3 linked regions of the Homo sapiens genome follow. The protein of the gene in region 2 purifies or fractionates together with the protein of the main gene of each other region. This does not show direct contact. Each region holds a gene or a part of one and is shown on either strand. Other genes may lie near its edges.

The links.
Region 1: the proteins of OR4X2 (region 2) and CIBAR2 purify together in Homo sapiens (affinity purification with mass spectrometry; one large-scale study listed by BioGRID and IntAct). This does not show direct contact.
Region 3: the proteins of OR4X2 (region 2) and TESMIN purify together in Homo sapiens (affinity purification with mass spectrometry; one large-scale study listed by BioGRID and IntAct). This does not show direct contact.

Annotation. Positions count from the first base shown.
Region 1 is NC_000016.10:85,109,673-85,113,879, forward strand, and holds the start of CIBAR2 (CBY1-interacting BAR domain-containing protein 2), read right to left. Parts: upstream 2,801-4,207; 5' UTR 2,681-2,800; coding exon 2,661-2,680; intron 789-2,660; coding exon 554-788; intron 1-553. UniProt on the Homo sapiens protein: May play a role in ciliogenesis. In cooperation with CBY1 may facilitate ciliogenesis likely by the recruitment and fusion of endosomal vesicles at distal appendages during early stages of ciliogenesis.
Region 2 is NC_000011.10:48,243,623-48,246,515, reverse strand, and holds OR4X2 (olfactory receptor 4X2), read right to left. Parts: upstream 1,413-2,893; coding exon 501-1,412; downstream 1-500. UniProt on the Homo sapiens protein: Odorant receptor.
Region 3 is NC_000011.10:68,748,721-68,752,752, reverse strand, and holds the start of TESMIN (tesmin), read left to right. Parts: upstream 1-1,232; 5' UTR 1,233-1,333; intron 1,334-2,053; 5' UTR 2,054-2,092; coding exon 2,093-2,563; intron 2,564-4,032.

The sequences.
Region 1 (4,207 bases), on a different chromosome or scaffold from region 2:
ATTTATTTTAGAGATGGAGTCTTGCTATGTTTCCTAGGCTGATCTTAAACTCCTGGGCTCAGACAGTCTGTCCACCTAGGCCTCCCAGAGTGCTGAGATTACAGGTGTGAGCACCTGGCCCTTTTTTATTCTTTTCTACAATTCATGGTGAGGAGTTTTCTGGGCTGGCAGGAATTTCTATTTTTAATTATTTCCTGAACACCCTGCAGCCTCCTTGCCCCTGACTCCCCACCAGGATTTCTGTTCCTTCCCGAGGCCCTCATAGGCCTTGGATGTGTCTCCTTCGGGGGTTCATGGAGCCCCCAGGGCTGGCTTCCTGGGTTTCCTTGCTTTGTTGACCCTTCATCCGACTCAGCAAAGCCTCCTAGGCTCTCAATCCTGCAGGTGGAGGTGTGACCCTGGAAAGGGTGTAAATGTCCATTGTCGGTGGATGTCTCTGGAGACACACCCATTGGCTGTGGCCACAGCAGGGCTCCTGCAGCCCTCAGGCCTGACCTTGGCATTGGAGCCTGGGTACCCCTCAGCATCCCAGACCCGGGCCGGCAGCACTCACCTGGGCCTGCCGGTAATCCTGCACTTTGGCCAGGTCCTCAGCGAAGCCCCTCATGGTGGCCCGCAGCTCGGGGTTCTCGGAGTTGGCAAAGTCGATGAGCTGCTTGACCAGCTGGTCCGCCTTGTCCCGCAGCCGGGCCGTCTTGCGCGTGTAGGCGGCCAGCAGCGAGCAGAACTGCCCAAAGTACTTCTCGGTGTTGGCCACGGTATTCTCCATCACCCTCACCTGGCTGTCCCTGTGGAGGCGGGGACCTGAGCAGCCATTCTGGGCAGAGATGCAGGGCCCCGGTCATGCCAAGAGCAGACAATAGCTATGAAAACAGGAGCTGCCACCAGCCGGCCTCTGGTGTGGCACGCACATGCCACAGGCTGTCACTCAAGGTGGCAGCATCACGGCCATTGAGGCTGATGAGGGGGATCTGCCTGGGCTGGTCAGTAGTGGGCAGGAATATAAATGCGGGCTTGGCTGCAGACCTGGCCTTTTTTTTTTTTTTTTTGGAGACAGAGTCTTGCTCTGTCACCCAGGCTGGAGTGCAGTGGTATGATCTTGGCTTACTGCAACCTCTGCCTCCTGGTTTCAAGTAATTCTCCTGCCTCAGCCTCCTGAGTAGGTGGGATTACAGGCGCCTGCCACCATGCCTGGCTAATTTTTGTATTTTTAGTAGAGACAGGGTTTCACCATGTTGGCCAGGCTGGTCTTGAACTCCTGACCTCAGGTGATCTGCCTGCCTTGGCCTCCCAAAGTGCTGGGATGACAGGCATGAGCCACCACGTTCGGCCCCAACTCACCTTTAAGGGCTCCCAATCCGGCGCCCCCCTGCAGCAGGTGCGCGATGACTGATCCACCGCATTCAGGCTTCTACGACAGCCAGGGAGGCCTGGCCTCTCCTGGGCCTCCTCACGCCCTCTCCTTTCCCTCATCCCCAGCGTGTAACTGTCCCTGCCTCTCTCCCTGTGACCAAAGTCCCCCGTGCAACCCTCTCATCAAATCCCTGACTCGAGAAACGCCCTGAGGAGCAGCCCTCTGTCCCGACAGACCCTAACTCTCTTGCCACCCTCACTGCAAAACACTCCACATGCACCGCCCTATAAGCAAGGTGCTGCTGGTATCACCATGTGAAAATGCAGTGAACTGAGGCCCAGAGAGGTGAAGCATCTTGCTACCGGTCACACAGCCAGACACAGCCTCTGTTCCCGCAGGTAGGGTCCTCACAGCCCCTGATTCAGCAGCACAGGGGTCAGAAGTCAGACACTGGGGCTCCTAGGCCCCCGACCCCAGGCATGTGCACCAGAATCCCTGGGAGGGGGCCTGAGAAGCTGCGTTTTAAAAACACATCCAGGCTGGGCACAGTGGCTCACGCCTGTCATCCCAGCTCTTTGGGGGGCCGAGGTGTGCAGATTGCCTGAGCTCAGGAGTTCAAGACCACCCTGGGCAACATGGTGAAACCCCGTCTCTACTAAAATACAAAAAATTAACCGGGCGTAATAGCACGCCTGTAGTCCCAGCTACTTGGGAGGCTGAGGCATGAGAATCGCTTGAGCCCAGGCGATGGAGGTTGCAGTGAGCCGAGATCGAGATGGCACCACTGCACTCCAGCTTGGGCTACAGAGTGAGAGTCCATCTCAAAAAAATAAAAGATAAAAACACATTGGTTGCTTGAGAGGTTGCCTGGAATTCGAACCTCAGAGGAACCAGGCGTGGAAATGAACGGGGCAGGGCAGGCAGGTTGTGAGAGCAGGGATGGCATGGGCCGGGGCAGTGTGGACTGGGTCCCCACAGAAGGGGGAGGCCTGGTTGGGGTTGAGGTGTGATGGGGGTTTTCCAGGTGGAGGCGAGAAAGGAAAGGGGATGAATTTGACTCCTCCAGATACACAGGCAGCGATGCTGGAGAAGCAGACGGAGGCCAGATTCTGGAAGCTTCTGTAGTCCCAAGCCCTGTCTTCCCTGAGCTGGATGGAGGTGGAGGCACCGTGGGAGGGAGAGCTCCCCTCACCCCCAACCCCCACCCCAAGCAGCAGGCCCTGCTGCCCTCATCTTTGTTGGTGCCCCGGGCCTCAAAACCCGACTTCCACCTCCCTCACAGCCAGGCTGGCGCTGGCCCACTCACCTGGAGAAGACGATGTTCATTGTGACCAGAGCTTTGGCTGTCCCGGTGCTGGGGAATAAGGACAGGGCCCCAGGGGTCCTGCAGGCCTGGGAGGAGCCGGGCAGGGCTGGGTGCAGCTGTGTGGCCTGGGCTCAAGGGACGCTGCCACCCGGTTGCTAGGCGATGGGGCCGCCCACGGCAGGCCCTAGGAGGAGCCGGTCGCCCGGGCAATGCCTCCCTGAGGCCGGCCTCCCCAGCCTCGCGTTGGCTCAGGAGCTGCTGAGAGAAGAGGGCACCCCACAGAGGCCCACACTCTCCCTTTGAAGATGGAGGCTCTTGTGGAATGGGGCTAGTGGCTGGGGCTCCCCAGGAGGTAGCAGGGAGAGATTTAGGGGGCTCAGGCCTGCGTGCGGCCACATGTGTGGGTCCTGCCCACTGGGCTCCTCCCTCCCTTCAGGGAAGCTGCCTGCCCCGAGCCTGCCACTGGCCTTTCTGGGGTCTAGTCTCAGGTGGGCGGGACATGGAAAAGCTCAGGTGGGGGGTGCAGACACACAGAGTAAACTCGGGCTCCCCAGGGTGGGGCAAGGAACCAGCTCAAAGGAGCGTCTTTCACGTTTTTATCATAATTGCATTGTTTTTTCCCTTATTATAAAAGCATTATCTGCTCACTGTTAGTAAAGTAAGATAATTAAGATACCACAGAAAGAAAATATAAATGCACATGTCAGATTGACTAGCTCAAGTCCAATACATTCCACTAATGGTATGATTTCTATGTCTCAATGTATAGACACTTTACCTTCAGAAAAGAAACATAAAAATCACGACAGTAAGGAACGGGGATGGGAGGCGGGCAGAGGAAGCGGCCCAGGCCTTACTCTGCCGTTCTGTTACTTTGTATGTTTGGAGGCTTTCATTATGGAAATGGAAAGGGTTTTTTGTTTTGTTTTGTTTTTAAAGCATATATAAAAGCAAGGACTTCAGGGTCAGCTAAATACAGGTTCAAATCCCAGACCCCGCTCTGCTGTGTGACCTTGGGCAAGTCCCCTGACCTCTCTGGGCTTCAGTCCCCTCCCCTGCAGAATGGGCTCATGACAGTACTCAGTTAGGAGAAGTAAGTCCCTGGCATGGGGGCGAAGGGACAGACACAGAGGCTGGGGCGGGGACCCAGAACTCATTGAAATTCCCAGTGCACAGGCCCAGGCTGGTGGCGGCTTCCCTCTGTGACCGATCCCCAGGTGCCCACTGGGCTGTGCCGGCTGGCTGGCCCCTCCTCACGCTTCTCCAGTGATCTCATCGTCACACTCTCTCCAATCGTCCCTTTGCAGATGCCCTGCCCTGTGTTCCCCGGAGTCCCCGAACAACGCATGGACCACCCCAGCTCTGTCCCTGCTGGGTCCCCATTCTCTGTCTGGGGCATGAACCCCCACAACCTCCCACGGGATGGCTCTAAGTAGCCCCCTGGGGTTCCACAGTCAGCGTGGCTCCTCCCTTTCTGTGCCAAGCTGTGGGGTGGTGGGGTCCTGTGTCCCCTTTGTGCCGTGCAGCCGTCGCTGAGCGCCAGTCAA
Region 2 (2,893 bases):
GGGCAATGGTTTAGAGGGGAAGGGCTATAAAGTTACATTTTTCTCTCTGTAATTAATACCCCTTGGTGTCCTAAGGAAAGATACTTTGAAACAATGTAAAATCATTTCTTATCCAAAAAAAAGTGTTTAATGACAGGATTCTATTCTGTCAAGAGCACTTTCACAAGATAGGTGACTCAGTGTAACACTGTGCACCAAAAGTCTTTATACTCTAACACTAAATTCACTCTAGGAAATAAGCCTAAAAGAAAGTCAGAAGCATGGTTAAAAATGTCTATTCAAGAATATTAACTACAGTGTTATTTATGGTGGTAAAAAATTAGTACCTCCACAAAAAGAAATACTATTCAAGTTATGAAAATGAACTTTTTAAAGAGAGAGGCCAGGTAGAATAATCTGCAACTAACAGGTCCTGTGAACTTTCCTTCAACCTATTCTGCTCCTTCAGTTTGGACTCAACAGTCATTCTAAACCCAAGTATCAATACAAAGACTCAGCCTCTATTTCTCATTTAGTCTCAATGTCCTAATCCACAGCCTCTTCATGGCCTTCCTCATTTCAGCATTTCTCAGAGAGTAGATGACAGGGTTCAGGATCGCGGTTATCACTGTGTAGAACACAGCCACCATCTTGTCTATGGGCAGAGTGGTAGAAGGCCTCAGAGAGTTGAAGACGCAGGGCCCAAAGAACAAGATAACCACAGCGAAATGGGACCCACAGGTGGAGAGGGCTTTGCACCACCCTTCAGAGCTCCAGGTTCTCAGATGGAGCAAGATGACCATATAGGATGCTAAGAGGACCCCAAAACTGATCACAGACAGGGTGCCTCCATTGGCAACAATCAGCAGACCAATGAGGAAGGTGTCAGAGCAGGCAAGTTTGAGAAGGGGAACTAGGTCACAGAAATAGTGATTGATCACATTGGGGCCACAGAAGAGCAGGTGGAAGATGAGAAGGATTTGTGCAAAGGAATGCATGAAGCCTCCCACCCATGCTATTCCTACAAGGACAGTACACACCTGCCAGTTCATGATGGTGGTGTAGCTGAGGGGCTTGCAGATGGCCACATAGTGGTCATAGGCCATCACAGTGAGCAGGAAAATCTCAGTGCCACCAAAGAAGTGCAAGAAGAAAAGCTGTGCCATGCAGCCCCACCAAGATATGACTTTCCTTTCAGCCAGCAGATCTGAGATGAGTTTGGGGGCTGTAGCGGAGGAGTAGCAGATCTCCATGAAGGAGAGGTAGCTGAGGAAGAAGTACATGGGGGAACCAAGGCTTCTGCTGGTCATGACAGTGAGCACAATGAGGAAATTCCCCAGCACAATTGCTGTGTACAAGAACAGAAATATCACAAAGCAAACCCTCTGCACCTCCTGGTTGGGAGAAAGTACCAGAAAAATGAATTCAGTCATGTTGTGTATGTTAGCCAAGAGGTCATCATCAAGAGGCAGCAATTTGGGTGGTGTGATCTGAAATGATACAAAATACTTCTTCACTCAGTGGGTGAATTACATGAAAGCCCTTGCATAGCTGAGATGCTTCTGAGTTGGAAATTGAAAGGTGAGTAGGAGTTAGTTATGTGTAGAAGGGAAGAGCATTCCAAGAAGGCAGAGAGCAAGTACAAATGCTTTGTGTGTGGCTGGAATAAAGGGGAGAATAGCAAAAAAATAAAGCTGTAGATAGACATTAGTACCAATTTGTGAAGGACTGTTAGGGCCTTTGAGGACCCTAGCAGTCCCAAAGTGTTTTTCCTTTTAGTTGATGAACATGCTTGATGATTCCCCATTGTCTGCAGGATCAGACAAAGTCTGTAGTATGTAGAACTAAAGTGTGGAAAGGGCTGTCCAGTGGAAACAGATTAGAGGAGGAGCTCTATTAGGAAGTTAATAAGTCCCTCATTGGATGATGTGGAACAGCCAGGATAGTGTTACTGTCTCCATGTTAGATGAGTGTTTTAAATTATCTTGTGCCTACAGCTTTCCTTCATGCCACTTCCTTCTCCTTTTTTTTTTTTTTTTTTTTTTTTTTTTTTTTTTTCAGACAGGGGCTCACTTTGTCACCCAGGCTGGAGTGCAGTGGTGTGATCTTGGCTCACTGCAGCCTTGACTTCCCCCAGCTCAAATGATCCTCCCACCTCAGCCTCCTGAGTAACTAGGACTACAGGCATGTGCCACCATGCTCTGCTAATTTTTATATTTTTTGTAGAGATAGGGTTTCACCATGTTGCCCAGGCTGGTCTAAAGCTCCTGAGCTCAAGCAAGCCACCCACTTCAGCCTCCCGAAGTGCTGTGATTATAGGCATGAGCCACTGCTCCTGGCCTTCTTTTCTATCCTTGGTTTGCAGAACAGTGTCCTCAACCTCTCCACATACCATTCAGAGTCTTTAGAAGAGATATCCCTAGTGGACCTCCTTTGACAATCAACATCTCCTCTTATTTCTGCTTCTCCCTCTAATTCTCACATTCTACACTTGGTCACTTGGTGAGCTTGTCCCCTTCCAAGGGCCCAGCTCAACTTAATCCATGTATGATTCTCCTCTTTACTGGGGCTTTCACTTTCTCCAGTCACATCCTCCAGTGGCAACAAAGGTCCAACACCCCCCATACACACACACACACACACACACACACACACACACACACACACATCCCAGTGCCCCCTCATGCTCTGACACATCCTTCTCCACAGCCCAGGCTTTCAACACCTCAGAGCATCACCAAGACTGCTCAGGACTGATTGGCAGGCTGTCCCAGTCCATGCTGAACTCTGTCCAAGGTGGCTAAGGTTTTGTATATCCACATAGCCTCTCCTACAGTAACACTCCAGGCCACCTGAGCCTGGGAGCCAGATCACTTCCACTCACACCACAAGGCTTCCTTGCTTCCATGATTGG
Region 3 (4,032 bases), about 21 Mb from region 2:
TCTACACCCTTTGCAGTTTTCGCCATCACTTGAATTAAACTTTCACCTCCTCTTGATTAAACAGTGATATCTATTGACTCCTTAAAGATGAAATAGCTCATTCCCCACCCAAAATTTGAGACTTTCATTGTATTTGTGAGTTTTTTTTTTTTTTTCTGAGAGGGAGCCTTTCTCTGTTGGTCAGGCTGGAGTACAGTGACACAATCTCAGCTCACTGCAACCCCCATCTCCCAGGTTCAAGCCTCAGCCTTCTATGTAGCTGGGACTACAGGCGTGCGCCACTACGCCCAGCTAGTTTTTGTATTTTTTAGTAGAGACGGAGTTTCACTATATGTTGGCCAGGCTGGTCTCGAACTCCTGACCTCAGGTGATCCACCCGCCTCGGCCTCCCAAAGTGCTGGGATTACAGACGTGAGCCACCACGCCCAGCCGTATTTGTTACTTCTATTTCGGGACCAACTCCATCAGTTGCACCTGTAAGCTGCGTCACCAAGGACCGGGAGTGGGTGCAAGGCTGGGAACGTGCGGTGCAAGCCCCTGCCCTCTGTCCACCCGCAGCGTCCCAGGCCGGGATCTGTCTTGAGAGCTCGAGTGTAGAAAAATGTTTTATTTTATTTTATTTATTTTTTTGAGACGGAGTCTAGCTCTGTGGCACAGGCTGGAGTGCAGTGGCGGGATCTCGGCTCACTGCAACCTCCACCTCCCGGGCTCAAGCGATTCTCCTGCCTCAGCCTTCCAAGTAGCTGGGATTACAGGCGCGTGCCACCACGGCCAGCTAATTTTTGTATTTTTAGTAGAGACGGGGTTTCACCATGTTGCCCAGGCTGGTTTTGAACTCCTGACCTCAAGTAATCCGCCTGCCTCGGCCTCCCAAAGTGCTGGGACTACAGGCGTGAGCAACCACGCCTGGCCAGAAAAATATAACTGAAGCCCAAGGTCAGAAGCCAAGCTAGGCAGTCCCACTTAGCGCTGCCCGAGTTGATGGGGACCTCAGTTTCCCCACCTGAGCCTGGATCGGCTGAACCTGGGAGTGCCTCCCCTGACCCGCTCTGGCAACAGCGGCAGTCCAGGCCCCGCCCCTCGCGACTCTGTCTCCTCCCGCCCCAGACCACGCCCACCACACCTCCCTGGCCCCGCCTTTACCTCCCCGCCCCGACCTCGACTCCGCCCCACGCCCAGGCCCCGCCCACTGCCCGGGCGCCTCTTCCCCTCCCCCCAGGTTCCTGTCCCTCACCCTTCCCCCTTCTCCAACCGCCAACGGCCGCCTGCGCCTGAGGCCCGGCCCACGCCCCATCCCGCTCGCTCCACGCTGCGGCAGCCCCGGCGGCCCCAGGTGCGTCCCTCCGAGGAGGAATGACGGGGCGGTCCCCGGGCTGGGCCTCGGCTCTGCAGGCGGGGATGGGGGCTGCCGGGCCGGGTCGGGCCCCTGCGGGTGGGCGGAGGGCGGCGGGCCGTGGGCGAGGCCGCCCCTCACCTGGTCGCACCTCACCTGGCCCCCCCTCCCCTGGCTGCTCCTCACCTGACCCCCTCCTCGGCCGCCCCTCACCTGGCCCCCTCCCCTGGGCGCCCCTCACCTGACCCCCACCCCGGCCGGCCCCTCTCCTGGCCGCCCCTTACCTGGTCGCCCCTCCCCTGACTCCCTCCCCTGGTCGCTCCTCACCTGGCCGCCCCTCACCTGGCCCCCTCCCCTGGCCGCCCCTCCCCTGGTCGCCCCTCCCGTGACCCCCTCCCCGGCCGCCCCTCCCCTGGTCGCCGCTCACCTGACCGCCTCCCCTGGTCGCTCCTCACCTGGCCGCCCCTCACCTGGCCGCCCCTCACCTAATCGCCCCTCATCTGGTCGCCCCTCCCCTGACCCCCTCACCTGGTCGCCCTTCCCCGGGCCCCTCACCTGGCCCTCCCTCACCAGGCCGCCCCCTCCCCTAGCCGCCCCTCACCTGGTCCCCTCCCCTGGCCGCCCCTCCCTTGGCTGCCCCTCCCTTGGCTGTCCCCTTTCCTGGCCGCCCCTCCCCTCGTCCTCTCCTCTGGCTGCCTCTCACCTGGCCGCGTGTTGCAGGTGCGCGGCCCCCGCCATCCCGCCCCGCCGCCCTGCGCCATGGAGGAGGGCCCTCTGCCGGGCGGGCTGCCCAGCCCCGAGGATGCGATGGTGACGGAGCTCTTAAGCCCCGAGGGTCCGTTCGCTTCGGAGAACATCGGCCTGAAGGCCCCCGTGAAGTACGAGGAGGACGAGTTCCACGTCTTCAAAGAAGCGTACCTGGGCCCGGCGGACCCCAAGGAACCCGTCCTGCACGCGTTCAACCCCGCGCTGGGCGCCGACTGCAAGGGCCAGGTCAAGGCGAAGCTCGCGGGGGGCGACAGCGACGGCGGGGAGCTCCTCGGGGAGTACCCCGGGATCCCAGAGCTCAGCGCGCTGGAGGACGTCGCGCTCCTGCAGGCCCCGCAGCCGCCCGCCTGCAACGTGCACTTCCTGTCCTCGCTGCTACCCGCGCACCGCAGCCCGGCGGTGTTGCCCCTGGGCGCCTGGGTCCTGGAAGGAGCCTCCCACCCGGGCGTCCGCATGATCCCAGTAAGAACCGCCTGGGGAATGGGCACAGCTCCCCCTCCATCCCTTCCCCAACCCATCTGAGGCTGCTAGTGTACCCCAGGATTTCCCTCTACAAGCATTTTCCCTGGTGACACCACACACAGCCCACCGGAGTCACTGATTCTCGGTAGAGCGTATACTCTTTGTCGTCTTCCTAATCCAACATGCATCGGCCCAGCCAAGCCCTTTCCCCTGGAGGGAATTCTGCCCTGCACCAGTCGTCCAAAGCTGACCTAACCATGCAGACGGCGGACAACAAAAAAAGGGGGAAAGCTAGGACGTAGGTTCCCTTGGGCCCTGTTGCTATCCTTGGCTTAAGGAGAGAGGCCCGCTGTCTGCTGGTAACTATTGTCTGTGAAAACAAACGCAATGTGGTGGAGGGTTGGCGTGTTTGCATCTTGCATTTTTTTTTTCCTTTAACTTTACCAGGCTTGGAATCCACAGCAAGGACTCAGAGTTAATACTTGGATTTTCCGGGCCTTGAAGTCAAGATGTGAGATCTTCCCTTTGCTAATGAGTAATAGCTCTTCAAGCATATGCAATGTAAATCAGAGCCTAAAGAAATGCTTGCCAGCTCTCAGCCGACTGCCCTCTCTAGCTGTAGATGACCGCTGATAATTTTCCGCTTTGTTCTTGCCAAAACTAATGAGTTTTCAAAGGAAACAAAGGGTCCCAGGAAAATGTGTTCTCGACCCCTCAAAAAGGACCCAGCTCAGAAAACGAGACCACTCATCCATGAGGTCATTTTAGTAAGTTGTAGATGAAGCGTTTGTGGGACACAATGCTTGAGTCAGTATTGAGATGGCTGGAGCCTGACCCTGTATCATAAGCCAGAGCAGCAGGAGCTTGGATTTCTGCTCTTCCGGTTTTCTGTTATGGTAATTGCCAGTCCTTAGTGTACAGGAAAAGGATGGGCAGAGGCTGGGGCCTCCACTGACCTCTGTTTGTCCTCAGAGGAGCCATAGAGCTCACCAGTTCCCCCAGCCGTTTCCCAGGACAGAGGTCTTTCTCACAGCCTTTCTCAGAGGGCTTGAAATGTTAAGAACTGCATTTTGCTGCCCAGCCGGATTGGTGTCCAGCGCCTCCTGCCCGTAGGTCCTAGCTCGGCTCATTTCCTCACAGAGTGGAGTCAGAAAGCATTAATCAGAACAGGGAAGATAATACAAAAATTAACCGGGTGTGGTGGCGCACACCTGTAATCCCAGCTACTCGGGAGGCTGAGGCAGGAGAATTGCTTGAACCTGGGAGGCGAAGGCTGCAGTGAGCCGAGATTGCACCACTGCACTCCAGCCTGAGCGACAGAGTGAGACCCTGTCTTAAAAAACAAACAAAACACACACAAGAGAATTCTCTGATGTTAAAGATAGTAAAATTCTCTTTAATCCAATTTTAAGAGATTGCTGGTCTGACAAACTAAAGGAGAGACTTTGCTTTTTAAATTTTTATTGACT